Regions from separate parts of the Homo sapiens genome. Here regions 2, 3 and 4 are each reported to be linked to region 1. The links are microRNA targets in miRTarBase. Many come from high-throughput screens and were not tested one by one. Region 1 holds a microRNA gene; each other region holds the end of a gene's coding sequence.

What was found. Region 1 holds the annotated microRNA hsa-miR-302d-3p (UAAGUGCUUCCAUGUUUGAGUGU, at 2,239-2,261, shown strand). A microRNA usually pairs through its seed, bases 2 to 8, with sites in the 3' UTR of a target mRNA and lowers its output. Matches are read on the target gene's strand: a 7mer-m8 pairs with bases 2 to 8, a 7mer-A1 pairs with bases 2 to 7 and ends in A, and an 8mer does both.
Region 2: the mRNA of MAP1B is a reported target of hsa-miR-302d-3p. Seed matches in the 3' UTR shown: 7mer-A1 at 1,816-1,822 and 7mer-m8 at 4,912-4,918.
Region 3: the mRNA of MTMR9 is a reported target of hsa-miR-302d-3p. Seed matches in the 3' UTR shown: 7mer-m8 at 4,325-4,331.
Region 4: miRTarBase lists DRAXIN as a target of hsa-miR-302d-3p. Seed matches in the 3' UTR shown: 7mer-m8 at 5,264-5,270, 7mer-m8 at 4,514-4,520 and 7mer-m8 at 3,872-3,878.

Annotation. Positions count from the first base shown.
Region 1 is chr4:112,643,267-112,650,266 of GRCh38, reverse strand. MIR302D (microRNA 302d) reads left to right here and starts at 2,196; the gene lies at 2,196-2,263. LARP7 (La ribonucleoprotein 7, transcriptional regulator) reads right to left here. Exons shown (of 13, transcript NM_016648.4): 2 at 5,396-5,599; 3 at 3,816-3,916; 4 at 3,596-3,679; 5 at 3,312-3,476; 6 at 3,140-3,233; 7 at 2,718-3,068; 8 at 2,433-2,577; 9 at 581-732. The coding sequence starts at 5,597. MIR302CHG (miR-302/367 cluster host gene) reads left to right here and starts at 216. Exons shown (of 3, transcript NR_146092.1): 1 at 216-275; 2 at 1,668-1,754; 3 at 3,299-3,547. It overlaps MIR367 (microRNA 367), which reads left to right and starts at 2,326; the gene lies at 2,326-2,393. It also overlaps MIR302A, MIR302C and MIR302B. RefSeq lists an enhancer at 674-1,396 and a silencer at 6,461-6,562.
Region 2 is chr5:72,204,400-72,211,641 of GRCh38, forward strand. It overlaps MAP1B (microtubule associated protein 1B), which reads left to right. Exons shown (of 7, transcript NM_005909.5): 7 at 685-5,166. The coding sequence ends at 840. Among named protein-coding and RNA genes, the nearest start is that of MIR4803, 39 kb to the left of the region's middle.
Region 3 is chr8:11,322,397-11,329,396 of GRCh38, forward strand. MTMR9 (myotubularin related protein 9) reads left to right here. Exons shown (of 10, transcript NM_015458.4): 10 at 229-5,750. The coding sequence ends at 392. MTMR9-AS1 (MTMR9 antisense RNA 1) reads right to left here and starts at 3,032. Exons shown (of 2, transcript NR_189628.1): 1 at 2,920-3,032.
Region 4 is chr1:11,718,371-11,725,612 of GRCh38, reverse strand. It overlaps DRAXIN (dorsal inhibitory axon guidance protein), which reads right to left. Exons shown (of 7, transcript NM_198545.4): 7 at 1-6,029. The coding sequence ends at 5,917. Among named protein-coding and RNA genes, the nearest start is that of AGTRAP, 14 kb to the left of the region's middle. RefSeq lists an enhancer at 5,800-5,869.

The sequences.
Region 1 (7,000 bases):
TTTATTATTCTACATGCAAATTGTTACTGCTAGAAGAGCATTCGTAAAGCCTTTAAATTTGCCCCTTCTCCCTGAACAAAGGAACAGTAAATTTTTACTCAATAAAGTTAAAAAAAAGTTAAAGGATACTGTGTTTTAAATACATTATTATTCAAACGTGAACATTTATTTTTACAAGAAATGAGAATTTAAAATGTATCCTAATTTTGAATTCATAGGAATTCTGCTTTAACTTGTTCCTGCTTGTGGTGCATACTACAGAATGAAATTAACAGGTGAGAAACTACAATCTTCATTCCTACAAACTTGCTCAGTCTGCAAACTCTGCACTCATGTGCTTGATGAAAACTGTAGAGAAAACTCAGGTTATTTAAAAAATTGTTTTAAATGAGCCTTTTAAATATTCTTATATCAAGAGTAAGTAACACATCTGGATAACTTAACAAATCAAGAATTGTTCTAATAATGAAATAGAATAATCAAGTTTTTTAAAATTAAAATTTATCTTATAACAACTCAGAGATAGCATTTACATATATAAGTACATTATAATGTTGTCAAAACTATCAGTGATCTTTACTTTTTTCATTTTTCATTCCAGTGTTTTGAGGTACTCCACTGTCTGTTTCCATTTCTGACTCTGATTTTATTTGGGATATTGTTTTTTTTAAAGAAGCCATGCTAGCTTTTTGTAGCGCTAAATACTCTTTTTTCAAATCCATCCATTCGCTCCTACAAGGAAAGAAATGGTGATAACAGATGACTAAATATAAAAAGTAAATAGGGAAATATCTAAATATATACATTCACAATGACTTGGAGCAACTCCTCCACCAACTTTCCTGTTTCTTTAAACACATATTCAAAATATTTCCTAGGTTCTAAAGACATTTAGCAAAATAAGCTAAGGGAGTTCCTCTTCCCCCAATATTCAGATTAAATGTTTTAAGATTGCCAATTAAATTTTTGAGTGTCTGAAGTATTTTAATTTATAAAAGTAAAATTTTAGCATTAATTCCTTAACTAGTAACATTTACTAAATCAGTCATCTCTGTGGGAAAAGGGCGAGATTAAAGATTTGTTAAACTGCTTCCAATTTGAGAGATAACATTCCTTAGTATTTACTTGAATCAAAAAGAATTTCTAAGTAGAACAAAACACCCCGTGGAAGCAATCTATTTATTTACATACATTTAACATGTAGATGCTTCTTCAAACAGAGTTCCTCCAGATAGAAACACAATGCCTTTCTCGGCTCAGTGGGAGCACTCATTGTTACCCTAATCTATGCCATCAAACAAGCAGATAGGAGATTTTCTTTTTCTTTTTCTTTTTTTTTTTTAAGAGGAAGATATCTTGTGGTAATGGTTTTAGCTGTTAACATTGACATCTGTATACTTCAAAAAAAAAAAAAAGGATCCAGACCCACCCAGGATCATACATTCCCTGAGAGCTGATACATTAAAATAACAAAAGGCCCTTGTAATGATTCTCTGAGATAAAAAGGCAAAAGGAATTCAAGAGTTAAGAATAGTATAAATAGAAGTGGCTGAAGTCCCTGCCTTTTACCCTTCTGGAGGAGAACACGAATCTTTGGGAACTAGTTCAGGAAGGTAAAAAAATTTTTTTCTTCTAAAGTTATGCCATTTTGTTTTCTTTCTCCTCAGCTCTAAATACTCTGAAGTCCAAAGAAGTTGTATGTTGGGTGGGCTCCCTTCAACTTTAACATGGAAGTGCTTTCTGTGACTTTAAAAGTAAGTGCTTCCATGTTTTAGTAGGAGTGAATCCAATTTACTTCTCCAAAATAGAACACGCTAACCTCATTTGAAGGGATCCCCTTTGCTTTAACATGGGGGTACCTGCTGTGTGAAACAAAAGTAAGTGCTTCCATGTTTCAGTGGAGGTGTCTCCAAGCCAGCACACCTTTTGTTACAAAATTTTTTTGTTATTGTGTTTTAAGGTTACTAAGCTTGTTACAGGTTAAAGGATTCTAACTTTTTCCAAGACTGGGCTCCCCACCACTTAAACGTGGATGTACTTGCTTTGAAACTAAAGAAGTAAGTGCTTCCATGTTTTGGTGATGGTAAGTCTTCCTTTTACATTTTTATTATTTTTTTAGAAAATAACTTTATTGTATTGACCGCAGCTCATATATTTAAGCTTTATTTTGTATTTTTACATCTGTTAAGGGGCCCCCTCTACTTTAACATGGAGGCACTTGCTGTGACATGACAAAAATAAGTGCTTCCATGTTTGAGTGTGGTGGTTCCTACCTAATCAGCAATTGCGTTAACGCCCACACTGTGTGCAGTTCTTGGCTACAGGCCATTACTGTTGCTAATATGCAACTCTGTTGAATATAAATTGGAATTGCACTTTAGCAATGGTGATGGATTGTTAAGCCAATGACAGAATTTAAACCACAGACTTACTTTGATAGCACTCTTAATGGTATAACTTCTTCTCCCATTTTATGTCTCTCTTTATGTTTTTTCTTATGTTTCCTTTTTGTTTTCAAGAGAGAGCTATCTTTTAGATCTCCAGTATCCTTTTCCTCTTCAGTAGAGATTTCTATATCTTGAAATAAATAAAAAAGCTCTCCGTTAAGACATGGGGCTGTGAAATGGGTGAAACAGAAGCCAATTAAAACCTAATTAATTAAAAACTAATTAATTAAAATTAATTAGTTTTATCTAATTAAAACCTTGTAGTTTTACCTCTATTTTCCTTGGAAGCTTCTGATGCTTCCTTAATGATGTCTTTCTGAATAATTTTCTTTACTTTTGATCGGGGAGCTAGGGATTCTGCATCTTCAGAGCTGCTTCTCTTCCTCTTCCCTGTTCTGACTTCAGGTAAGCTAGATGCTTCAACTCTGTCCCGTTTTTTCTTTTTCTTTGAGCACTGCTTTTGGGGTTCAGTGGACTCAATGTCAGAGCCCTCAGATGTGGGTCTGGATCTTTTCATTTTACTGATGCTGGTGTTGCTTGTGTCCATGTTTTCTTCTTTGGCTTGGATATTGTCTTCCTTTTTCATTCGGCCTTTCTTCTTCTTTTTCTTTTTCTTCTCTTCTGTAAAAGTGCCATCATTATTAGTTCATCTTACTTCAACTACACCTATTTAAATATTGAAAAATACTCACCCACAACTCTTAAGGCTGGAATGGGCTTATTTTTCACTGTTTTAGGAAATATGCCAGGTTTTCTTGGTGCTTCTTCTGGTGGGTTGTTAAGAAACTGAAATGATTGCAAAAGTTACTATTTTAATACTTGTTTTCTTTTCTTTCTTTTTTTTTTTTTAGGATCTGGACTTACCTCAATTGCTTTTGCTGCTTGTTCTTTTGTTTCAAATTCCACAAACGCAAATCCCTTTGGATCTCCAGTAGACTTATAATGTGGTATACTTATATAAACAACATTGCCACATTTCCCAAATACTCTTTCAATCCAGCTGTGATTAACATTTTTGGGAAGTAACTCCTATTATAAATTAAAAGCAATATTAGAGTTTTTCACAATCAGAATGTCAATAAATTTTTAACTTAATTATATTGTTTCTGTGCCAGTTTCTGACTGGGGACCCGGGTTCTTAAGCTTACCACATACACTGTGCGTTCATCCTCATCCTTTGGTCTTTCCCCCAGAGGTTTTTTCCTCCGGATTCTGGTGCCTTCCAAATCAAGCTTTAAAATAGTATATTACATTAATAAAACTAATATTATTTATAATTGTAAGCTATAATCATATAATAATCATTACGTTAACATTCTTTATAATTATAAACTATAAATATAAACAGTAGTTATTCTTGATTCTTACCTCTACAACAGCTGAACTTCTCAATGCTCTGGCAATTAACTTCCCATCAGTAGTCAATTTTTTCATTTTGTTAAAAGACACAAGTAGTGATATATCAACATCTAAAGAAAATGAAAAAGTTAATATGTTAGTGTATCAGCAGGATTAATTCAATTTGGTACAATTTAACCTGCCCCTCAGGCCCTCAGGCTCGGTGGCTCATGCCTGTAATCCTAGTACTTTGGGAGGCCAAGGCGGGTGGATGGGGGAGTTCAAGACCAGCCTGGCCAACATAGTGAAACCCCATCTCTACTAAAAATACAAAGAATTAGCTGGGTGTAGTGGTGCACGCCTGTAATCCCAGCTACTCGAGAGTGAGGTAGGAGAATCGCTTGAACCCAGGAGGCAGAGGTTGCAGTGAGCTGAGATCACTCCAGCCTGGGAGAAAGAGACTCAAACAAAACAAACAAAAAAAAACTGTATGAGGGTCTAAATGGCATTGCATATTTGGCGACCTAAAATGACACATTTTAGTGTATGTAACTGCAGATTAAGATTTGAACACAAATTATTAGCAATACCCAGACATTCAAAGAGGACATCTGGATCCCATCCTATTAGAAACAAGCACAAGGTTGGCTATTTGAAATTTAGCAACTGGGGATGGTGGCTCAATGCTTCTTATCTCAGCAATTCAGGGGTGAAGGTAAATCTCTTGAGCTCAGGAGCTCAAGACCAGCCTGGGCAACATGGTGGGACCCCATATCTCTTAAAAATGCCAGAAAAAAAAGCCGGCCTGGTGATGCTTGCCTGTGTTCTCAGCTACTGGGGAGGCTGATGGAGGATCGCTTGGGTGGGGCTGAGGGGGTGGAGGTGGGGGCAGAAGTTGGAGTGAGCAGACATGGAGCCAGTGCATTCCTGCCTAGGGAAAAAAGATAGACCTTGCCTCAAAAAAATGAAACAAAAAATAACATTGAGCTAGGTGAAATGCCTTCTTGTATGAACTAAAGTATAGCACTCTCGAGTTACACATGATGAATGGTTATTGAAGCAATTAAATCCCAAAATACTTAAAAGCTTTGATTTGAAATTGCTTATTTAATATAGCCTAAACTGTTACCAACAGTCTTTATTTAGAAGATTGTCATTCACTAAATAAAAATTAGAACAGATTACACGGAACACACTTACAGAAACGAATATACACATTATAGAATATACTATTTTAGGCTGGGTGTAGTGGCTCACGCCTGTAATCCCAGCATTTTGGGAGGCTGAGGTGGGCAGATCACAAGGTCAGGAGTTCGAGACCAGCCTGGCCAACACAGTAAAATCCCATCTCTACTGAAAATACAAAAATTAGCCGGGCATGGTGGTGCTTGCCTGTAGTCCCACCTACTCGGGAGGCTGAGGCAGGAGAATCACTTGAACCCAGGAGGCAGAGGTTGCAATGAGCTGAGATCATGCCACTGCACTCCAGCCTGGGCAACAGAGCAAGACTCCAACTCAAAAAAAAAAAAAAAAAAAGAATATATTATTTTATAAGTAAATTTAAAGGCAACCATATCTAAAAATTGGTTCCTTTACTGAAGCAAACTTACATCCATCTCTAGATTTTTCTATCTGTTCTCGAAGAAATCTATCCTTGTGAAGATTTGCATCCCCAAACCAGAAGTCCACTTGCTTAGCAATATCTGCAAGCACCTGTTTAACTCGTGACCGTTTCTTTTTTTCAACTTCTTTTTTCTTTTCAGTGCTTTCTTCTTCCATTACCTTTTCCTGATTTCCACTTTCAGTTTCCATTCCTGTGAATTACAAGAAAAAGATGTAAATATTTAAATCACCACAATAGCTAATATAGTTAAATATTTAGATTAGCCTTTAACTGTCTGAGAGAATAATGGACTCACATTTGGCCATCAGAAGACAAACAGAAAGAACATTCATTTTTATATTTAATAAATTAAATTTAAAAATAATTTACCTTCTATGTTAGGGATCATAGCTTTAGTTTCTTTGTACCTTTTAAAACACAGGGCCAGATTATCCTAGAATAATATAAAAAATTACACCTTTATCTCACTAAGCTGCACTTTTAAGTCAGTAAGTGAAAAGTGTAAGATTAAGGGACGTGGACACTCTCCATCGCAACACCCCCTCCTCTCCATCGCAACACCCCCCCGCCCCCGCCCCACCCCAGAGAAGTTGTATTCGCTTTTTTTTTTTTTCTTGGAGACAGTTTCCCTTTTGTTGTGCAGGCTGGAGTGCAGTGGCGTGAACTTGGCTGACTGCAACCTCCATCTCCCGGGTTCAAGCAATTCTCCTGCCTCAGTCTCCCAAGTAGCTGGGACTACAGGCACATGCCATCATGCCCGGCTAATTTTTGTATTTGTAGTAGGAGACGGGGTTTCACCATGTTTGCCAGGTTTGTCTTGAATTGCTGTCCTGGTGATCTGCCCGCCTCCGCCTCCCAAAGTGCTAGGATTACAGACATGAGCCGCCGCGCCTGGCAATTTTGATTTTTAAAATGTTAATTTCTGCTTTCTAGGGGCAGAATTCAACTGGTAAGCTGTAGAAATCAGCCTCTTCTCTCTTCTCTTTCTTCTTCTCTTCTCTTTTCTTTGAGGCAGTCTTCCTCTGTTGCCCAGGCTGGAGTGCAGTGGCATGATCTCAGCTTACTGCAAGCTCTGCCTCCTGGGTTCAAGCGATTCTCCCTGCCTCAGCCTCCCAAGTAGCTGGGAATACAGGCACCACTGCCAATCACACCCGGCTAATTTTTGTATTTTTAGTAGAGACAGAGTTTCACCATGTTGGCCAGGCTGGTCTCGAACTCCTGACCTCAGGTGATTCGCCAGCCTCAGCCTCCCAAAGTGCTGGGATTATAGGTGTGAGCCACCGCGCCCAGCCATAAATCAGCCTTTTCAAGTGGCCTTCTCATCCCAGTGTTTATTTCTTGGGCAGCAATTTCTAACCCCCTCCTTCCTCAAGTTACTTTCAGTATCTCTTCCCCTTTGCTTTGTCAGCTCCAGCCATACAGTCCTTGCACTTCTTGAAGCTCACCCAGCAATGTCTAACGGGGTCTTTTAAACCTGTTCTCTTTGAAACACATATCCCCAGAGATAACACAGCTTGCTCTCCTACTTCAAGTGTTTATTTAAATGTCACCTCAGTGCGGTCCCCTCCCACAATCATATTTAATAATGCAA
Region 2 (7,242 bases), not on the chromosome of region 1:
GAACCAGCTATTATTAATTCAGCTGTGATCTTTGCTTATCAAGTTTTATTTGTGGTTCTGTACAAAATTACCTAGTAAATTGTGCTTGTATCATATTATATAGAATTACTTGTTATTTAATCATATGAAATCTAATGAGAGGCACCCAGTGGCTCCCTACTGAATGCTAGATGGAATTTATACTATTCAGGACATTACTTACCCACCCCATACCTCCATCCCCAACCACACACATAAAGTAAAGGTGCAGATCTTTGTTCTCAGGACAAAATGTTAGTTACTCACAATGAGTGGGCTTTTGAGGGCTTTGAAGTGCGCGATAAAATCCTTGGATTAAATATGCAATATCTTTTATGCAAAACTTACCAGTTGTGTTAAAGGAAATACAAAAAATTGTACCCTAACGGAAGCACTTCTCTTAACAGTAAAGAACTGAGAAACTGATTAATTGCTTTTTGGTTCCAGCCTTCAGTTTCCCTTAGAAACAATAGCTTTTCTTTGCAGCTTTATTCTGGTTCCTGGAAAATATACATTGAAAAATCCTTTGCATTTCTTGAGGAAAATAGAAAAGTTTTCTCTCATTTCCCTTCTTCTTCCAGTGGTCTAATACCTTGCTATTCAATTTTTTTCATATGGTTTCTGTTTCTGCCCTTAAATAGCTATTTTTTTTTTCTCTCCCTGCAGGTGACACTGATCCCAACTCATGACTCAGAAGTGATGAGGGAATGGTACCAGGAGACCCATGAGAAACAGCAAGATCTCAACATCATGGTTTTAGCAAGCAGCAGCACAGTGGTTATGCAAGATGAATCCTTCCCTGCATGCAAGATTGAACTGTAAAAACCAAGGCCAGCCACACCACAGGATCTGAACTTTGTTTCCAGAAATTCTTCAATTTGAAATCACCTTTTCTAAAAAGTCAATTCATCTAGTTAAGTCGCTGAACAATTACCTGCCAAATGCTATACTGTGTCATGGTGATGCAAGTCACTAAATTTCTCAGTTTTTGCTGATTGCTAAGGGAAATAACAGTATTTCCACAATAGGGTTCAAATTCCTGCAAAATTACCTACCCCAGTTCATCTCTGCTGAACATTTGGAAACCATGCACTAGCCAACCCAACTGACTTCTGCTAGGTAGAGGCATTTGTCTTAGAGAGAGAGAGAGCGCGGGAGAGAGTGAGAGAGAGTGAGAGCACAAAGATAACGCAGGAGAGAGAGAGAGAAAGAATGAGAAAGAAAAGGAATGCAAGAGAAGGAGATGTAATGACAGAGAGTTCTGGTGAGATACCCAGAGAGAAAAAGAGAGAGCAGGGTGGGGTAAGGAGGAGAAAATAAACCAACAATTAGGTCTGCATTTTCTCAGGCAGTAGGCATTCTTTAGTCTACATAGGCAAAGTTTTCCATTTTTGTCAGTCTGAGTCATCAAAAAGAGTCTTAATTTTCTAAAACAAGTTGGCTAGAAGAAAGTAAAAAGAACAACACTTGTTATGAGGGCATGTGATATTTTCACATCTTAATTAAGCTCCTTCAGTTTGAAGGCTGCACACTGACATAATGTAGTGAGTGTAGACTGGCCATGCAAGTGGTTTGGGCCCCATTCAGAACTCTCAGACTCTAAACACACAAGTAGATTGATCTAAGGCATGCTCCCAGCATTTGTCCACCCACTTAGTCCACTCTGAGTCGATTAACCTGCATGCAGCAACACCCAAGTCCACCCCAATTAACTGAAGCAAATACCAAAGCAGTTGGGAGTACATATGGTAGACAATTTGCCTTAGGAAGTGACTTGAATGTACAAAGATACTTGATGCACTTATTTTTTAATGTGAGACAGCAAGTTTATAAAACATCCATATAGGATTATAGATACTTAAAGGAACACGTGGGTGAGCGTGTGTGGGGGTACTAGAAGCTGATCTGATTGGTCCAACAGTTTGATGCTGAGTCATGCGTGTTGAATCCCACTTCAGTGCACCTGTGGCCTCTCAGTCAAACAAGTTGTGCCTTTCACAGCTTCTTTACTACTGCAAGTTCAAGACTGAAATGGCTTCTATGATCAGAACTGGGAAAACAGTGAATCTTATGGTGGAAGAGGTTCTCAGCAAGTGTACAGTATTTACCTTCCTTTGTCTTACATTGGCTTTTTAAATTTTCCATTAATTTCAACATAATTATGGGAACAAGTGTACAGAAGAATTTTTTTTTTAAGATATGTGAGAACTTTTCATAGATGAACTTTTTAACAAATGTTTTCATTTACAGGAAATTGCAAAGAAAATTCTCAAGTGATAGTCTTTTTTTTTAAGTGTTTCGTAAGACAAAAATTGAATAATGTTTTTTGAAGTTCTGGCAAGATTGAAGTCTGATATTGCAGTAATGATATTTATTAAAAACCCATAACTACCAGGAATAATGATACCTCCCACCCCTTGATTCCCATAACATAAAAGTGCTACTTGAGAGTGGGGGAGAATGGCATGGTAGGCTACTTTTCAGGGCCTTGACAAGTACATCACCCAGTGGTATCCTACATACTTCTTTCAAGATCTTCAACCATGAGGTAAAAGAGCCAAGTTCAAAGAACCCTAGCACAAATTTGCTTTGGGATTTTCTTTTCTGGAAAAAAAAAATAAAAGAAATAGTACATTGAAAACAAATGAATTCTCAACTCCTACGGTTCATGTAGAGTTTAGAGAAAATTTCCATCATTGTCATCATTGAACTGTGAACCTGGGAAGCCAGATCATGATTAACACTGACATCAAGTTTCAAGTTGCAGATCAATGCACCCAGTGTTCAGATGAGGCAAACTTCTCCGTGACAACTGTGCTGTGCTCTGTCACATTACATTTCCTGCAGACTCTAAGATCTACGGAGTAGAGAACAATGACCTCATTTTATTTTCTATGTTAGTTATTTATTTCAAAATTAACATTTTAGTTGATTTTTGTCTGATAAGTCTATGTTTTGCACTGCTAACTATGATGAGGGTTTAAAAAAATGCTTCTTCAGGGTCCTTTCACTGAGGACCTATGCAGTCTACTTAATGCTGTGAATTACATTTTTCAAATGTTTAATTTTTTAAAGAAAATTAATATTCTATTTTTGTTAGGCTTCTCTAGAAATGCAGCTTTTATTTATTACCCCATTTCTTTCAAGTCCTTGGAAAATAACATATTAAGGGTACAAGAAATTAACACATGATGGAAAAGTCATTGTGACGCCAATGAATTTCATTGAGTATAAACTCATCTACTTCAAATTTATTTTATAACACAACCTAAGATACTCAAGATAATTATTTAATGGTTAGCTCTTAAGTTGAATTGGTCTACATAATGCGTGGGAAGAAAACCAGATTTTTAGCCTTCTTGCCAAATCCAGACCTCTGGTTGATTTTTCTTTGACAGAAGATGCAAGTTATTTTCCAATTTCACAATTAAATGTATTTAACCTGAACATTATTTTGCTTTAAAAACTATAAACATTGTAGGAGAATTATAGCCAGTCTTCAGTTATAACCACTCCACCCTCCTCACTTTCTCTCTCTCTCTCTCTTTTTTTTTTTTTTTTTTTTTGCTATGGGATTTAATGGGAAAAATATGTAAAAACTGTCACTAGTCAGCTGGCTCTTTTTCCTATGAAATCTATCAGTACCTTTCTCCATCCGTTGTTCTCAATATGACCACAGAGCCTGAGTATACCAAGAAAACCAATATTCGCATTACAGGTTGCTCCTGTCCTTCCAGACACCTTTCCTGCCTGTGTGACTAACCTAATTTTGCTAGTTCCATAAATACACGATTAGTTTAGTAACAGCCATCACAATGTACCATGTACATTCATGGTGAGAGCTAAAGATCGACACAGACTTCTAGGAGCTTTGTTCATACTGATTACTTAATCCAATTGTATAGATTGAATATTTGAGTGGAAGGAATTTACACTCTGTTTAAATGATGGGATTCTATCGAGATAGCACTCATGATCATGACCTTTTTGGTAGTATTCTTAAACAAAATTCTACAGAGACTAAATGTTAGCGATGATCCTCCATTTTCAATTTTAACCAATTCTGTCCCCTTTCTCAAAACCCTGAGCCCTGTGCATGCTTTCTCAGTCTTGTGGTGGGACTGGATACAATGACTAACTTCCCCTCCTCCCCTCTTTAAACACCATTTTCCATGGAGTTCAAAAAAATTTTTTTTCTTAACGTTACATATCATAGTGAATGGTTTCCCCAGTGTATATGAATGTTTTAAGTGTCTCCAATAGCTTATGCAGTCTAGGAGCTTTCCAATACTCATTTAATTAAGATTTAATCATTTGCTAATGGAAATCTTACCACCTTTCATTTTCCCTCTGTTACCAAATTTCAGCTCTTAGGAGCTGCTCTACAATTCTGAATTTGCTTTTCTTGCCTCTCTTTAGTCACCTGTCACAGGAGGTTCCTGCTCAGTAATGATATTGTGAGTTAGGATAATAACTTTTTTTTTTTGTGCTTCAGATTTAGAAGAAAAGATCCTGTTTCCATTTGAAAGGAACTGTAAGCTTTTATCTTTTAACCAACTGAACAATACACCAAAAGCAGCCTAGGGATGAGCATTTCTTTGAAAGCAATTAGGTTATTCACCTGGTATTAAAACTATTTACTGTTAAAAAATCTGTGACTTCATGAAGTTGATTTTTAAAGGCAGCATCAAAAACTGAAAAGGAAGGGAAAAAATAGGCAGCTTCTCTGCACTTGTTTGGAGCTCCCCAAAACAGGAGCCATGGAGAAGTGGCATCAAGACCGGGCTGCCCTTTCGAGAACACCCTGTGGCAGTTCAGAGACACGCTTTTCCTACACTGCATGCAGCCCCTCTTTCCAGCACTGGAAAGAAGTGGTCTTGAGCCCAGCTGAGAAGCACTTCACACTCCTCTCTCTTGTTCTGAATGGTGTTTGTGTCAGTCTGCAGCTGTGTATGGTATTATGTCTTATAATCCTGCATCACTTCTATCCTATCCAGTCATATCTAATGTAGAAAATTAGTTTCCAGTGAAAGTAATATGTAGTGCTTTTATGATATTTGTGTGCAATATCCCCTCTTCCATTGAGGATATTTGATGTAAAGGAAAAAAAAAAACTCAGTTCCACAATAAAATACAAAAGTGGCAAAAGTTCATGTGTGTGCTGTGCTGTCTTTTGCTTTGTGTTCCTGAGTTGGGCTTTGCCACTCACGCAGAATGCTGGGCAGTCAGGGCATGACGGCAGGGGGTGACTACGTTCTTTTCAAGATGGGCTCCCTGGCTTTTGGCAAACTGCCGAAAGCATCTTGCTAATGCTTGCAACTGCTACCTCGTTAACTTTTATAGCCAAGCTCTAGAGGATGTGAGCGTGTAAGGACAGAAACTGGGAGGTGAAGGGAAGGAACAATTAAAATTATTGCTTAAAAAAAAGAAAAAAAAAAGGATAGCTGGGTGCAGTGCTACATGCCTGTGATCCCAGTACTTTGGGAGGCCAAGGTGGGAGAATCATTTGAGCCCGGAAGTTCAAGGCTGTAGTGAACCATGATTGTGCCACTGCACTCCAACCTGGGCAACAGAGAGAGACTCTGTCTCTAAAAAAAAAAAAAAAAAAAAAGAAAGAAAAGATAGACCAGACCAGAACCTGTCATATTCAGCAATTGTGCTCAGTACCTATCTTTTTCTTAGTTCCTTGCTCACTGTTACAGAATATCCTCTATCTAACATAATATGTTGTGGATTTGACTCACACCCAGGAACTAGCAGTTGTTGGGAAAAAGTGATTATATATGTAGCAAAGAATACCTAACAAGAGGAGGATTTCCTCCCTGTCATTCAAATGATTATTACACATTTACCCTGTACCTGGCAGTAGGTTATATTACAAGATATAACCTAACTGCTGCCCTAACTGATTGGGGGAAGACAGACCAGCAGAGGCAATGATACCACATCGTGATGGGGGCTCCTAAAATTCAAGAGCGAGCTTAGGTGACCATAGGAAAAGCACCGCAAATGATGTCTCGGCTGAGCTCTGGAGTGTGTGTGTGTGTGTGTGTGTGTGTGTGTGTGTGTGTGTGTGTGCATTGGTTGGACCAAAAGTAAATTCCAGGCAGAGACAAGAGCTCACACAGGGTCTCAGCAGAGAGCAGGATCAGCATATGTTAAGGAGCACAGACTGCTCACAATGGCAGCATGTAAATGGGGGAGGCCCTGGCACTTCAGTTTCCCACCATGTGGCCACAAAAAACATGCCCATAAGGTTCTTAATAGAGACCTCCAAGACTGGGCCCTGCCTGTCTGCAGAGATGGTCCTTTAGCCTCAAAAGACCCCAGCAGCCTGTCCTGAGTTATTATGATATCCCTCTGTGTGTCATATCCACTCCTTTTGATCTTAACATTTCCCCTCCAAACCATGGGGCTACATTGAATGGTCCTATCAGAAATCACTGCTTGCTAAGAGGGATTCTGAAATCCCTCCAGAAATTAAAGGGTTAAGCATGTGAGCACTCAGGGTGGGAAATCATCACTTACAGATTTTAATTTCATCTATCAGACTCAAATTAAATAGTAAATAAGTTGTTTTCTATTCCACTGCCAAATTGTTCAGTTCCAGGAAGCCTTCCTTCTGGCCTGAAGCCAGGGTGGCCAACTATCTTGGTTTGCTCAGGACTGCCCTGATTTCAGCACTGAAAGTCCTGTGTCCCAGAAAACCCCTCAGTCCCTGGGAACCAGTGAGGGCTAGTCACCCTACCTGAACCCTGCCCTGCTGTTTACATCCCCTTCTCCCCCCATCTAGGCACAATGGAGGGGGAAAAGTTGGCGGCAGCTTTCCTTCAGTTTCTTTTTTCCTATCTTCTGAGAAAATCAACAAAGGTCTGTTGAGGTCCTGTGATCATATTTTCTCTCTCTTCTTAATTGTACCGCTCATTCTGGATGATTTTCTATATCCCTACAATGCTTTTTTTAACACACTCCTGACTCATGAATTCTTGGTCCCTTGCATAATTCCAGAACTATTTCCTCTTTGATCTTGTATTGTATGCCTTGGAAATTCACCGGAGCCATATATGCAGTTTTGGTCACACCTAGTTCGTTTAATATGAGCAGTTCTTCTGGATACTTCTCCAGGGGTTACTGGCAATGTTTTCACAGATGGTGGAGCAGGGCTTCTGAGGTCTGCTTGATTCACAGGGAGATCTCGCCGTACACCAACAGACACAGCTCTAT
Region 3 (7,000 bases), not on the chromosome of region 1:
GAGCATGTACATACAAGTAGTGACTTCTCAAATATTGTATTCAATTGCATCCTTTTCAGTACCTCAAGATTCCTGTATATTTTAGAGTATAATAAAATACAGATGTGAGTTGTGGCAACAAAAGAAAAAAGAATGTATAATACATAAATTACATCTTATCCACAAATGTAATTTTAATCCATTGTATATACCTTTCTTGCTTCTGTTTTCCATTCCTGGATTCAATAGGTATTTTCCTACGTTGGAATAGATCCTCTAAGTATTTGGATGAAGCATATGAAGAAATGGTTAACATCATTGAATATAATAAAGAATTACAAGCAAAAGTCAATATCCTTCGAAGGCAGTTGGCAGAACTGGAAACAGAGGACGGGATGCAGGAGAGTCCCTGAAAGGTCTCCTCGCACCCTTCGCAAGGACCTTCTTGGGCCTGTGTCCGCCGTTCTCTCCTTGTGCCCTTCAGTTCACTTTTACACGGTAGCCTTGAAGTGAAGGCTTTAGATGTGGGACCCCCCTAATGTAATGGATTTCTCAATACTGTATGAATAATGAAACTTACTATCATAAACCATGTTTCATGTGGCCTGTTAGGGCCTGTCACTTTGGGAGCCGGAAGGAGGTGCTAGTCATTTTATTTTTACGTGAAATAGATGACCTATTTAATGCCATTTGTGTTTCATGCCATTTTATCCAAAGCTTTTTCTCTGTGTCCACTCTCCAAACAGCATTCTAGAGCAGTCAAGGAGACAGCTAATCTCTCTAGGGACTATTTGGTGGTTTAAAAAAAGGGTCAGACTTTTAAACACTCTGACCATAGAAATGTTTTTCAAAATGGCAACAATGGATAAACCAAGGATTTTGTGTTTAACAATCCATTTCCAGTGTCTTCGCCACATAAAATAGCCATTTTCTTTAAAATAGTTTTGGACTAACGAAGCTGAAATCTATTCTCATTCTTGTTTGTCAAGAAAGGAAAATCTGTTATTCAAGGTAAATTATTTCTACAAGGGCAACAGGTATGGTCCTCCGATATTTACATTAAGAAGAGTTAAATTTATTTTAACGTAGACACTAAAAGTATGTGCAATATACAATTAAAGTAGGAATTTGTTACTGATTGAGAATTGTTACTGGTGAATTGGTTTTCAGGTTTTGAGCATACATATACAATGTGTTTCAAATGCTGCTTGTAAAATTAAACCATCATCTAGAATAGAGTTAATTTATTATAATCAAGCTACAAATAGGTTTTCTTAAACCAGAGATGCACTGCCCTTGTCTAAAGTTCTTATTGCACTGGTTTATATGTGTATGTGTGTTTTATTGTGTGTTTTTTTAATTTGTAAGTATTCTAAGAGTTTCCTAATACTAAGGTTAAAATTTTCATGTTGACCTGAGCCTTTTGCAAATTTGCTTTGGCTCTATTGATTTGTCCATTATGTGTTAGGCAAATATAACTTAAGTGGAGGGGGAAGTTTATGAATATAATATAGCTCTGTGTTTTAAACCTCAGAAACAGATTTGAGTGTTTCAGTATTATAGAAACAGTGATGACTATTCATGCTCTGCTAGTCTATGCCTGCAACTCCAAATGTTTGTGGTTCAGTATTTCCCACCTACATTTCTGTTTGGTGACATTGCTCATTTTAACAAATATGACCGAGTCTAGTTTTTCTTTAAAAGGATAGTTTATGAGTAATCTTTAAAACCATTTCCATACCATCTGTATATAACCATTTCGGTAGAGAACACACTACACTGAACCCTGCTTTAGAGCTGTGTGTTGAGCTAAAAATATAATTTTTTAAAAATTGACTAGCAAAATCTATGGCCACACTGAGAAGCCTTTGAAAATGGCAAATACTTTTCATCACCAATTGCCCAATTCATCTTTCTTCTGCTTCCTCAGCCTTGTAGCAAAGGCTACACAGCAGCCCACAGTCCACAGTCTTTTTGGGAAAATTGGCCTGCCACCTTCTTTAAGCTCAGTTTATTTTTGACTTACTTTCTTTGCTGTAGTTATGAACCTTGGGGCATTAAAATCCCATGGCAAGGAGCATAAGAGATGTTCTCGTAGCTCTGCGTTGTGTGAAATGTCCATCTTAGTTTTGTTAAAAAAAAAAAAAAAAAAAGGAAACAGCCTCACTTTTTTGTGCTCCCTCAGAATTGCTTGCTATGTCTGTTAATACAGCTGAGCTTTTTGTTTTCTTCTCTTTTTGTCTCAAGATTGTATATGAAGGAGGCTTTTCTTCTCAGCTAACAGGCATATAAGGAAAACCATCTAGAGAGTTTTCTTTAGAAGTGACTCCCATTAGCCTGGTGTGGTGGTGTGTGCCTATAGTCCCAGCCACTAGGAAAGCTGAGGCAGAAGGATCCCTTGAGCCTAGGAGGTTGAGGCTGCAGTGAGCTATGATCGCATCAGTCCACTCCAGCCTGAGCAACAGAGCGAGACCCTGTGTCTAAGTAAAGAAAAAGCCAGAAGTGACTCCCACTGCTTCTGTTGATCGGCCATAGGGCTTCCATGGGTGGAAACTTGTGAGGGAGTTTGTATTAGGTCTGGTCATGGAGGGATGATGTACCATCAAGGTAGACCCATCTTCCTGATGCACATTTGCTGTGCGAGCCAGAGTACAGTCATAACACGGTATTCGCATTTCGTTTTCTCTGTCTCACTGAGACAACAATCTATACTGTTTTGGCAAGTTTGCATTTTAGTATTAATTTATAATTAGGGATTGTTCAAACTTCAGATCTGTTTACAGGTTGTAAAAATAAACTTCGGTATCAGTGCATCTACAGAAGTGTTATTTGGTAATCCAAATATTAGAGTTTTCCCAAATCCAAAAACGGTCAGAAATAAGTCCATTATCAATATAATTTGAAGAAGATTTTTAGTAGTACTGTGAAGTTCGTGCTTACCTGGATGAGAAGAATAAATGACACGGATACACTCCTGAGAAGACACTCGTTAAACATTGCATCGGAGAGCTGCCTTTGATAAATGTGCTGTTAAACACTTGAATGAAGAGAATGGTGGCAGAATGAGTGAGCAAGCAGATTGCCCCAGAGGGGCCGGTAATAATCACGTGAGGGATAATCAGATTCCTGCGTATTCAGCATCTTCTCTATTCATGTGGAGTGAAAGCTGGTTTTTATACAGGAGATACGTAAAGTAGGCCCCACAAATAATATTTTTAAAATACAAAGGATCACCACAATCCTCTATTGAACATATAAGGATCCTCAGATTTAAATAAGTACTTTTTTTTTTTTTAATCAGAAGAACATTGTTGTTTGATTATATGTTTTTAAAAACCTGAAGCTTTTTTGGTGGCAGGACCTTTCAATAAATATTTATTTGGTCAAAATTTTTTATTTTGATTTTATTAAATGGGAAGAAAGCAAGCAGAAATAGTAAAATTCAGTAGGTTTAAAACAATCTATAAATGTATTTTATTTCCAAGAAAACTTAGGGTCTCAAAGCAAGATTTTAAAGTGATTTTTGAGAAGACTTGGGGGGGACAATAATAGACATTCATGTCAGATCCCATATGGGGGATTTTTAAACATTTCTTTGAACTTTGAGGCCTGATTTAGGGGTGGGATTTTATTGCTTTTTGTTTTAAAGGATGAAATTTTGTGGGGTTTTAGTCTTTGATTCAGTCAGTATTTGGTTTATGTTAAATAAAAAATCAGTATCATGGAAAAGATATGACCATAATTTAGTCTCCTCAAGTGAAAAACAGGAGTAATGTTTCGTTGCACTTTGAAAGATCTGCTTCAAGGCATAACTCGTGTAGTTGTCTGGTTTCAGGGATAGCTGTTTGAATTGTCATTCTAAAGTAGGTCATCAGGTTCACTTATTATCCGACCTTAATCTGGGATAAAGGTTTTGGTATTTGCCCACTTCTAGATAGAATGAATGAAAACAACACAAGCGTTTTATGAGCACTCTTTATCAGAAAGGTATTTCCTGGACCAGAAATGGGCAATAGTTACAATAGTTGATCCTCTGTTCTGGAAGCTTTGAAATTTATCAGAGAATGAAGTCATTCAGTACATCTGATAAAGTTTTGTTGTTGTTGTTGTTGTTGTTGTTTTAATTGGGCAACCCTCAGAACTGAAGAGGTTCAGAGAACTTTCCAGGTTTATACTATACCTCAAGACCACATAGATTAGCTACTGCTTATTCTTTCACATGGGCTAGGCCTGTTCTCCTCCTCCAGACCTAGTATTCTAAGTTATTACCACATAGTATTTTTATGTTACCCATCATCTTTAAAAACATTATAGGCTGGGCATGGTGGCTTACGCCTGTAATCCCAGCACTTTGGGAGGCCAAGGCGGGCGGATCATGAGGTCAGGAGATCGAGACCATCCTGGCTAACACGGTGAAAACCCATGTCTACTAAAAATACAAAAAATTAGCCAGGTGTGGTGGCGGGCGCCTGTAGTCCCAGCTACTCAGGAGGCTGAGGCAGGAGAATGGTGTGAACCCGGGAGGCAGAGCTTGCAGTGAGCCGAGATCGCACCACTGCACTCCAGCCTGGGCGAAAGGGCAAGACTCCATCTCAAAAAAAAAAAAAAAAAAAGACTCATTTATCCATTTACATTTATTCTCAGATGATAAAATATATACTGATACTATAACTTTCTTATGGTATCAGTTTTCTTTATTTTCTTGAATAAAATTACTTCTACCTTCATTTGGTCTTTATAATCCACTGTCCACAGCATCTTCCTTTAAACCAATAGTCCCAGAAGAGACCCTCTGAAATTCTAGGACTGGATATTAAAATGCCTGAACCTGTTATCTAAATCCTTTTTAAGAAACTTAATGTTCCAGCTCTTGAACTACACTGTGGAACAGTAATTTGTGCCCAATTTAGTGGAAGATAATGAGGCTCACTGTAAACACTACATTGTCCTGCAAAGTAATTCTGATGAGAGTTTACTGACTTCTAGAGCCATTCTCTTTAACCGTCTGCAGGTCTAAGGATTAACTATATTTGTGATTTGTAATAAAACTGAGTTGTACAACACTGCCTGTGTTTGTCTGGCCAAGACATTTGCTTCACTTTTAAAATGCACGTTATCTTTGGAGAGGTGAATTATTCTACAAAATGCACCCTAAATCTCATTGTTTAAAACCTTACTGATCTAATACCATCTACACAAAAAAATGTTGTAGTTGCAGAACTTAGTTTATAAAAACAAAGAATGTGTATTTCTTCAATAGCCGGGTATTTGGATTGTTCTCTTGATAATATTTGAATGTGACTCTTGGATTTAAGTGCACTATTATTCATGGCTTATACAATAAAATTGCACTGTATGGCAAATATGTCTATAATGTATGCTTTGCTGAAACCTCAAGAGTGCTGTAAGGTACAGGTTTCCATATTGTGAACCTGTGTACGCACACACACATATACATACAGTCTTAGGGAAAAAAAAAAGCAGAACTTTTGTAAGTCTGTGTAACATTTTAATATTGTTTGTAATATTCACTAGGTGATAATTTCCCCTGTACCCTATAACTGTAATCATTCACCTTGGGTTGGCCGGTTTGTCAAGCTTGGTTTACTGAATCAAGAAAGAGTCTTGTCGAATGTGGTACTGTTCTTAGTGTGTAATATTTGCGTATGGTGTTCCTCTGCCTCAGAGGACAGTTGCACAGATGGCTAGTGTTAAATTTCTATAGACGATGGTAATAAAATCTGAATATATTTAAGTGCTAATAAATTAAATCTGTGGGCTTATTTGAATTTTTTTTTCAAATATTGGTGAAGGTTTGGATGGTGTTTCAATTAAATCTATATATTTTTTACCTTACATTTTGAAAAAATTGAGATCTGCAAAAAGGCTGCAAAATAGTACACTGATCTCCCTAGATTGTTCCTATATTGAATGATTGGTAAAATTTTCCATATTTGCTTTAATACCACGTGTGTGTGTGTGTGTGTGTGTGTGTGTTTGTTACACTGTTATTTTGCTGAAACATCCGAGTTAGCTGCAGACATTGTGACCCTGTCTTCTAAATACTTCACAGGAATCTCCCAAGAATTAGGAATATGTATTCTACATATTATTGATTTAGTATGTATTAATATAAACACATGACTCATTGAGGGTAAAAGGAAAGCTCTTTCTTAGAGTAGAATGCCAGCTATTAAATGTAGAAAGAAAATGGAATTAAAAAGCCACTATTTGGCATATTATTACAGTAATCATTGACTTAGGCAATGCCTAACAGTGAATGGCAAAACTAGCAGGTGAAAATTTGTGAAGAACAGAATATAATCTCCAAATAGCCTTCCACAAAATAGTTACTAGTTACAAAGGAGAAAATACTAACTTTATAGTGAAAGGAACTGGTAGATATCACCTTATTTCAGGAAAAGTTAACATCATTAGTAATGGGACATATCAACATCATGTGCCTTCTGATATGATCCATCCAGAAACAGCACCACTGTTGGAGGGAAAAAGCAGTCTTAGGAGTTTTATAGTTTAAAATCTTACATTTAGATCTTAATCCATTCTGTATTAATTTTTGTATACCGTGTAAGGTAAGGGCCCAATTTCATTATTTGCATATGGATATTCAGTTTTTCCCAACACTTTGTTGAAGAGACTGTCCTTTTCCCATTGTGTGGTCTTGGTATCTTTGTTGAAGATTATTTGACCATATGCATATTCATTTCTGTGCACTCTATTGTGTTCCATTGGTGTATATGTCTGTGTTAATCACTGGAAGGCTGAGGCAGGAGGATCACATAGGGCCAGGAGTTCGAGACCAGCATGGGAAACATAACAAGATCCTGTCTTTACAAAAAATAAAAAAATTAGCCAGGCATGATGGTGCTCATCTGCAGTCCTTGCTACTCAGAAGCTGGAGTGGGAAGATCACTTGAGCCCAGGAGTTCCCTCTCCCTCTCTTTCCATGGTCTCCCTCTGATGCCGAGCCAAAGCTGGACTGTACTGCTGCCATCTCGGC
Region 4 (7,242 bases), not on the chromosome of region 1:
GCCTGGGAGTTTGTCATTGCTGGTAATTAGCTACGCAAAACAGGTCTCGGATTTGCCAGCTCACACCTGAATACAAATAGCCCGAATTATCCGAATGTCCCTGACCACCCCACATTTCTGTTTTCCCCGTCGTATCCTAGACCTGTGATTCTCAAATTTGATCGTGCCCAAGAATGACCTGGAGAACTTGTGAAAAGCCAAATGGCTGGGCCCCACCCCCAGAGATTCTGGCTCAGTAGGCGTGGGGTGGTGGGGCCCAAGAATCTACATTTCTTTTTGTTTTTTTTGTCTTTTTTTGAGACAAGGTCTCGCTGTATTGCCTAAGCTGGAGTGCAGTGGTGCGATCATGGCTCACTGCAGCCTCAACCTCTTGGGCTCAAGCGATCCTCCCACCTCAGCCTGGAGAATAGCTGGGACTACAGGTGTGCACCACCATGCCCGGCTAATTTTGTTATTTTTTGCAGAGATGAGGTCTCCCTATGTTGCCTAGGCTAAGATTCTGCATTTCTACCAAGCTCCCAGGTGCTGTTACTGGCCCGGGACCGTAATCTTGAGTGTCTAAGGTCTAGAAAGCCTCTTGCACCCAGAAGTGACCCAGCCATGGATCCTGTATCAGACTGCTTGTTCTGACTTAGAATTCAGAAAATACACTCCCTGCAATATAAACCCCTGGTTCTGCAAACTGCCCTTCCCAGGAAAGGCAACCGTCCCTGCTAACCTCCTCCCCAGGAAACACACACAGTCACCATTGCCTGTCAGAGTGAAGACTATCACAGAGGTGACAGGGCTCAGTCCAACCCCGTGAAACCCCCAGTGAGGAGCCACAGTGGTTTGCTTCTCTGGCCTCTCCACTGTCTCTCCTAGCACCATTTTCCTGGCTGTTCTGTTGTTTTATAAACCGGTTCCTTGCAGGTTTCAGGTATGCTGTCTCTCCAGCTGCAGAGTGAGCCCCACGGCAGGGGCCGTGTGCCCACCACCTCAATGTTAGGTTTTGTTGGGTGGGTTGAATATGGCTTGAAATAAGGACCCACCTCCAGCAGCTCAGTGGTAGAAGGGGTTGTGGCTTTAGGATTTACTTTGTGGCTTGGTCACTCCTCAAGGGGCTGTGAAGCTGTCATTTTCCCACAAGCCTTGGCCCTCATGTCATTGCATGCTCAGCCTATTCCCAGCAGGCATGGAAACCACTCTTGGTGTCTCCAGACAAACTACGGAAAGGCAGCCCTGTGGGAACAGCAGGTATTCCTGGGATCCGCGGTGAGACTCCAGCTGGAGGAGTGCAGGAGGGTTCAGGCCACGGGCCCAGCAGCTACTGGTTGCCACCTGGCCTCCTGCTCAGCTCCCCCACTCCACCCAGGGTATCATTTTAGACTCCAGCACCCATTTTATTGCAAAGCCACTTACTCCTCCAGCCCTGCCTCGGTGCCTGGAATCTGCACATGCTGCCAAGGGCTGAGGCCAGAACAGTTTTCCAAACCTCTCTGACCATGGAACCGTACCCTGACCCTTTCTAATAGAGCATCTCATGGTCCCAGTGTTCTATGGAACACACTTTGGGGAAGGAGCTTGAATGGTGACTTAGAAATGATCTCAGAGTATGTGATGGGTCATTGTCAAAGAACCGACATCTAAAATTCTCCTAGAATAACAAATTAGCTAACACTGGAGGTTTATTAGGTGCTAGGCACTGTTCTAAACACCTTATAAGAATTCTGCGTTCACAGGCCAGGCATGCTGGCTCATGCCTGTAATCCCAGCACTTTGGGAGGCTGAGACGGGGGGATCACCTGAGGTCAGGAGTTTGAGACCAGCCTGGCCAACATGGTGAAACCCCATCTCTACTAAAAATACAAACAGTAACCGGGCGTGGTGATGCTTGCCTATAATCCCAGGTACGCGAGAGGCTGAGGCGGGAGAATCACTTGTACCCAGGAGGCAGAGGTCGCAGTGAGCCGAGATCGTGCCACTGCACTCCAGCCTGGGCAACAAGAGTGAAACTCTGTCTCAAAAGAAAAAAAAAAAAAAAGAAGTATGCATTCACTACTCACAACAACCCTATGAAGGGAGAGTTATTATTCCCATTTTACAGATGAAAAAATCAAGGCACAGAGACCTTAAGAAACTTTCCTAAGGTTGCCAAAGCTGTGAGAGGTGGAATAGGTGGATTTAACACCAGCCACACTGCTACAGATGGAAGGGGAGAGCAGAGACTCTCCGCCCCAGCTGCACCTGAAGTTACCTGGGAGAAAAACTATGAAGCCCAGACCAAACAAAACAGAAGCTTTGTGGGTGGGCCCCAGGCCTGTGAATGTTCCTGGATTATTGCAACGTGCAGCCAGCGTTGAGAGTGAGCAGGCTTGAGCAGGGGTTGGCAAACCGTGACCCTCAGGCCAAATCTGCCCCACTGCCTGGTTTTGCGCAGTTGGCAAGCAAAGAGCAGTTTTTGCACTTTTAAATGGTTTTAGAAAATTAAACTAATAATATTTTATGGCCAGGTGCGGTGGCTCACACCTGTAATCCCAGCATTTTGGGAGGCTGAGGCGGGCGGATCACCTGAGGTCAGAAGTTTGAGACCAGCCTGGCCAACATGGTAAAACCTTATCTCTACTAAAAATACAAAAATTAACCAGGTGTGGTGGCACATGCCTGTAGTCACAGCTACTTGGGAGGCTGAGGCAGGAGAATTGCTTGAACCTGGGATGAAGAGGTTGCAGTGAGCTGAGACTGAGCCACTGCATTCCAGCCTGGGCAGCAGAGCAAAACTCCATCTCCAAAAAAAAAAAAAAGGAAAGAGAGAATAATATTTTGTGACATGTGAAAAGTATACAGAATTCACATGTGTGTCCAGAAATAGTTTTCCTGGAGCATAGCCATGAATTCATTTACACACTCTCTGTGGCTGCTTCGAGCTACGGCAGAGCTGAGTAGCTGGTGGAGATCAGATGGCTTGCAAATCCTAAAATGTTTATTTGGCTCCTCACAGTAAAAGTTTGCTAAACCCTGGATTAGAGGAAACTGGCTTCTGTATGAGCAAAATAAATTTAAGATAGACCTAAGGAAGAACTTCCTGGCAGAGAGGTTGGTTAGACACTTGAGAGGGCTTTGGGATTCCCAGCTCTGGAGTTAAGAGGTTCCATCCACCCATCCCTCTTTGGAAATGTCAAATAGAGATAGCTAGGGCAAAGAGACGGGCCTTGAATTTCCAACCATGGAACTACCCTGGCAACCAGTGGCAGTTCTATGGGCATTTTAGCTTTGTCCTGACCCTCTGTGTTCTCCATGGCTGATGTCCTAGGACCATCTAACAGCTGTCCCCCAGCCATAGTAATGCTGGGCTTTCTTCCGGCGGTACTCCTTAGGGTTCTAGCCCCACAGAGCCAGCACAGTCCCGAGTCACCACTTAATGTGAGGCACACACAGCATGTGTGGGTTGTCTGGTCTCAAGTACGAAGCTGCTGGCAGATCTGCCTTTTTACATTTTTAAGTGTTTTATATTTTTGGAGTCTCACTCTGTCGCCCAGGCTGGAGTGCAATGGCGTGATCTTGGCTCACCGCAACCTCCGCCTCCTGGGTTCAAGTGATTCTCCCGCCTGAGCCTCCTGAGTAGCTGGGATTACAGGCACCTGCCACCATGCCTGGCTAATTTTTGTATTTTTAGTAGAGATGGGGTTTCACCATGTTGGTCAGGCTGTTCTCGAACGCCTTACTTCAAGTGATCTGCCTACCTCGGCCTCCCAGAGTGCTGGGATGTCAGACATGAGCCCTCGTGCCCAGCCTTAATTTTTGTATATTTGGTAGAGACCGGGTTTTGCCATGTTGGCCAGGCTGGTCTCAAACTCCTGACCTGAGGTGGTCCGCCCACCTCAGCCTCCCAAAGTGCTGGGATTACAGGCATGAGCCATTGTGTCTAGCCATATCTGCCTTTCAGCTAGCCTGCTTTGATCTCCCAGTTCCCCTGCCCTCCCTGCTCCCTCCCCACAAGGTTCCCATGCCCATCAAACTTGGATAGGGAGAGAACAAGCATATTTAATTTCTTCTAGATCTGCCTGCTTTCCTTGGTGCCTGACCCCTGACCCCGACTGATTTTTCCAACGCAGTAAACATCTCTGGCATCTTATGGGCGTGATCCAGGCCAGTGAGGAATTTGGCCAGGAAAGTCTTTTGTCATTTGCAACCTGGTTCGCCCTGGAACAGAGGGTTGGCCAGGAGTGAGATGCCAAGTGGGGGGATTTAAATGGTTCTCCTGAAGTGACCCCTGAAGCCAGATCTGCTGGGACAGATGTCCTGGGTGGGCATTGTGAGTCTGGCCTGTTAGGGGCAGTTAGCTTCAGATAGCACCTCAATTTCAGGTGAGCCTCAACTTCCCAGTGGGCTCTGCTGCAAAAATGTGGGGTGGGGTTCCAGGGATGGTTTTGTGGTCCTGGAAATCACTAAACAGTATGCAAAGTGGGTAAACATGGGCAATATGTGTGGGGTTTTTTTGGATTCCATGCTTGCATCAGAACCCCTGGGGGGGAAGTGCTCCAGAAAACTGTAAAGTGCCTGTCCAGGACTGGATGATCAGGACCACAGGGACATAAAGGCCAACATGATTCTTTTCCCCAAACACTTCTTATCCCAGGATATCAGCTACTAGACCACAGGGATCAACCTGCCCAACTTATTCCTGCAAGCAAGTATGTGCTTAAGTTGTATTTTGTTTTGTTTTTAAACATGATACACCTTTATCCAGGGAAGGCAGAGAACAGTCAAGTTATTCCAGCCACAGAGGAAGGGAATACCAGGGTGTGAGCCTCTCTTGCCAAAAGCCTTAGAGAATCTGGAAGAAATTCTTGGCTGTGGAGCAGCAAGAACGTGGGCCTTGGAGCTGGACAGCCTTGGCCCAGGTTCATGTCCTTGCTCTGCCATGTACTTCCCAGGACCTCTCAGTGGGTCCCTGGGCCAGCAGCCTCGCGTTCCCTGGGAGCTTGTTAGAGCACAGAGCCCACTGAGTCAGATGTGCTTTTTTTTTTTTTTTTTTTTGAGATGGAGTTTCACTCTTGTCCCCCAGGCTGGAGTGCAGTGGCACGATCTCTGCTCACTGCAACCTCTGCCTCCCAAGTTCAAGCGATTCTGGTGCCTCAGCCTCCGAGTAGCTGGGATTACAGGTGTGCACCACCGCGCCTGGCCTAATTTTTGTATTTTTAATAGAGACGGGGTTTCCCCATGTTGGCCAGGCTGGTCTCGAACTCCTGACCTCAGGTGAGCCACCCGCCTTGGCCTCCCAAAGTGCTGGGATTACAAGCGTGAGCCGCCGCGCCCGGCCAGATGTACATTTTTAACTGGACCTCCAGGTGACTCTTAGCATGTTCAGGTTTGAGGAGCACTGACCTGGGACCCTGGGCAAGTCGAGTCAAATAACTCCAGCGTGCCTCACGGTCCTCAACCTGTCGCATGGTGATAATGCCTACTTGAAAAGGTCGTTGTGATAATTCAATGAGATAATGTATTCCAGCACTTAGCACAGTGCCTGGTACATAGGAGATGTTCCATATTCATCTCCTGATGGTGGACCTTCTTTCGGGAAGTTTAAATTTCTTTTCCACTCTCAAAAACGCCTCTTGGTTTTGAACTTGAAGCTGTTGCAGTGCTGGAGTCGGACAGTAGAGGGCACTCTCGGCATTGCCATCGCGGAGAGCAAGACACGCGGGATGGAGGCTGCGTGGGTCCGGACTTCGTGTGTGCAGGTGCTGCGGGCCGGCTCCTGGGCACCCACCCAGCTCATTCGCCGAGCGGCTCCCCTCCTGGGGTTGAGTGTCCTGGGCCTGAGTCTGCAGCCTCAGCCATCTGTTCCCCAACTTGATCTCCCACTGCTAGTTACAAACAAATCGCCCGGCTTGTGCAAACCTCCTGGGCTCAGTCCCCAGTCCCGCGGGGCCGCTAGACGTTGATGAAGGATCCCTGGTCGCCGTTGGCCGTCTCGGGCTCCACACAGCGCCCTTTCCTCCGTGTAACCCTGCGGTTCCGGTGGAATTTGGCATAGCAGCGCAGCCCTGGGCGAGTGGAGGCAAGGGGGGTCAGAGGCGCGAAGGGCCCGTGCCCTCCCCTTCCTTCCCCTGCACGCTCGGGGCCAGCCAGCTCCCTCCTGCCTTCATTATTCTGCCCTACAACCCAGCTTCCTCACGGCAGCCCCAATGAGCTTAAAAGACACGAACCCGGAAGAGGGGAGGAATGAACACGGAAGGAGAACAGAGAAGACTCAGGGCGGTCGGGGCGGTGAACATATTCTGTGTGACACGTAATGGTGGGACATGGCATGCATTTGTCAAAACCCACAGAATGCACCGCACAGTGAACTATAACTTACGTTGACTTCAGTTAGTAATAATAATACATCACTATTGGTTTGTCAAGCAACAAATGTACCAAGAGAGGCCGGGCACGGTGGCTCACGCCTATAATCCCAGCGCTTTGTAAGGCCGAGGCAGGTGGATCACTTGAGGTCAGGAGTTTGAGACCAGCCTGGCCAACATGGTGAAACCCCGTCTCTACTTAAAAAAATACAAAAACTACCCGGGCATGGTGGTGGGTGCCTGTAATCCCCGTTACTTGGGAGGCTGAGGCAGGAGAATCACATGAACCCGGGAGGTGGAGCTTGCAGTGAGCCAAGATCATGCCACTGCACTCCAGCTGGGGCGACAGAGCTAGACTCCCTCTCAGAAAACAAACAAACAAACAAACAAACAAACAAATCTACCACATGATTGCAAGATGTTATTAATAGGAGAAACTGCATGCAGGGGCAAAGCAGGTATATGAGAACCACATTCTGTGAAATTTTTCTAGAAAACTGCTCTAAAAATAAAGTCCACAGGGTACGGTGGCTCACACCCGTAATCCCAGCACTTTGAGAGGCTGAGGTGGGAGGATCGCTTGAGCCCAGTAGTTCCAGACCAGCCTAAGCAACATAGGGAGACCCTATCTCTACAAAAAATGTAAAAATTAGCCAGGCATTGTGGCATACACCTGTAGTCCCAACTATAGGAAGGAGGGGCTAACATGAGAGGATCCTTTGAGCCCAGGAGTTCCAGGCTGCAGTGCGCCTTGGTTGCACCACTGTAGTTCAGCCTGGGTAACAGAGTGAGACTCTGTCTCAAAAAAATTAAAAAATAAAATACACAGATAAATTCAATTAAAAAGTCTATAATCTTGAAAATTGGAAAGGAAAAAGGTTATTAAATTTTTTTTTAAGTGGCTCAAATTCTG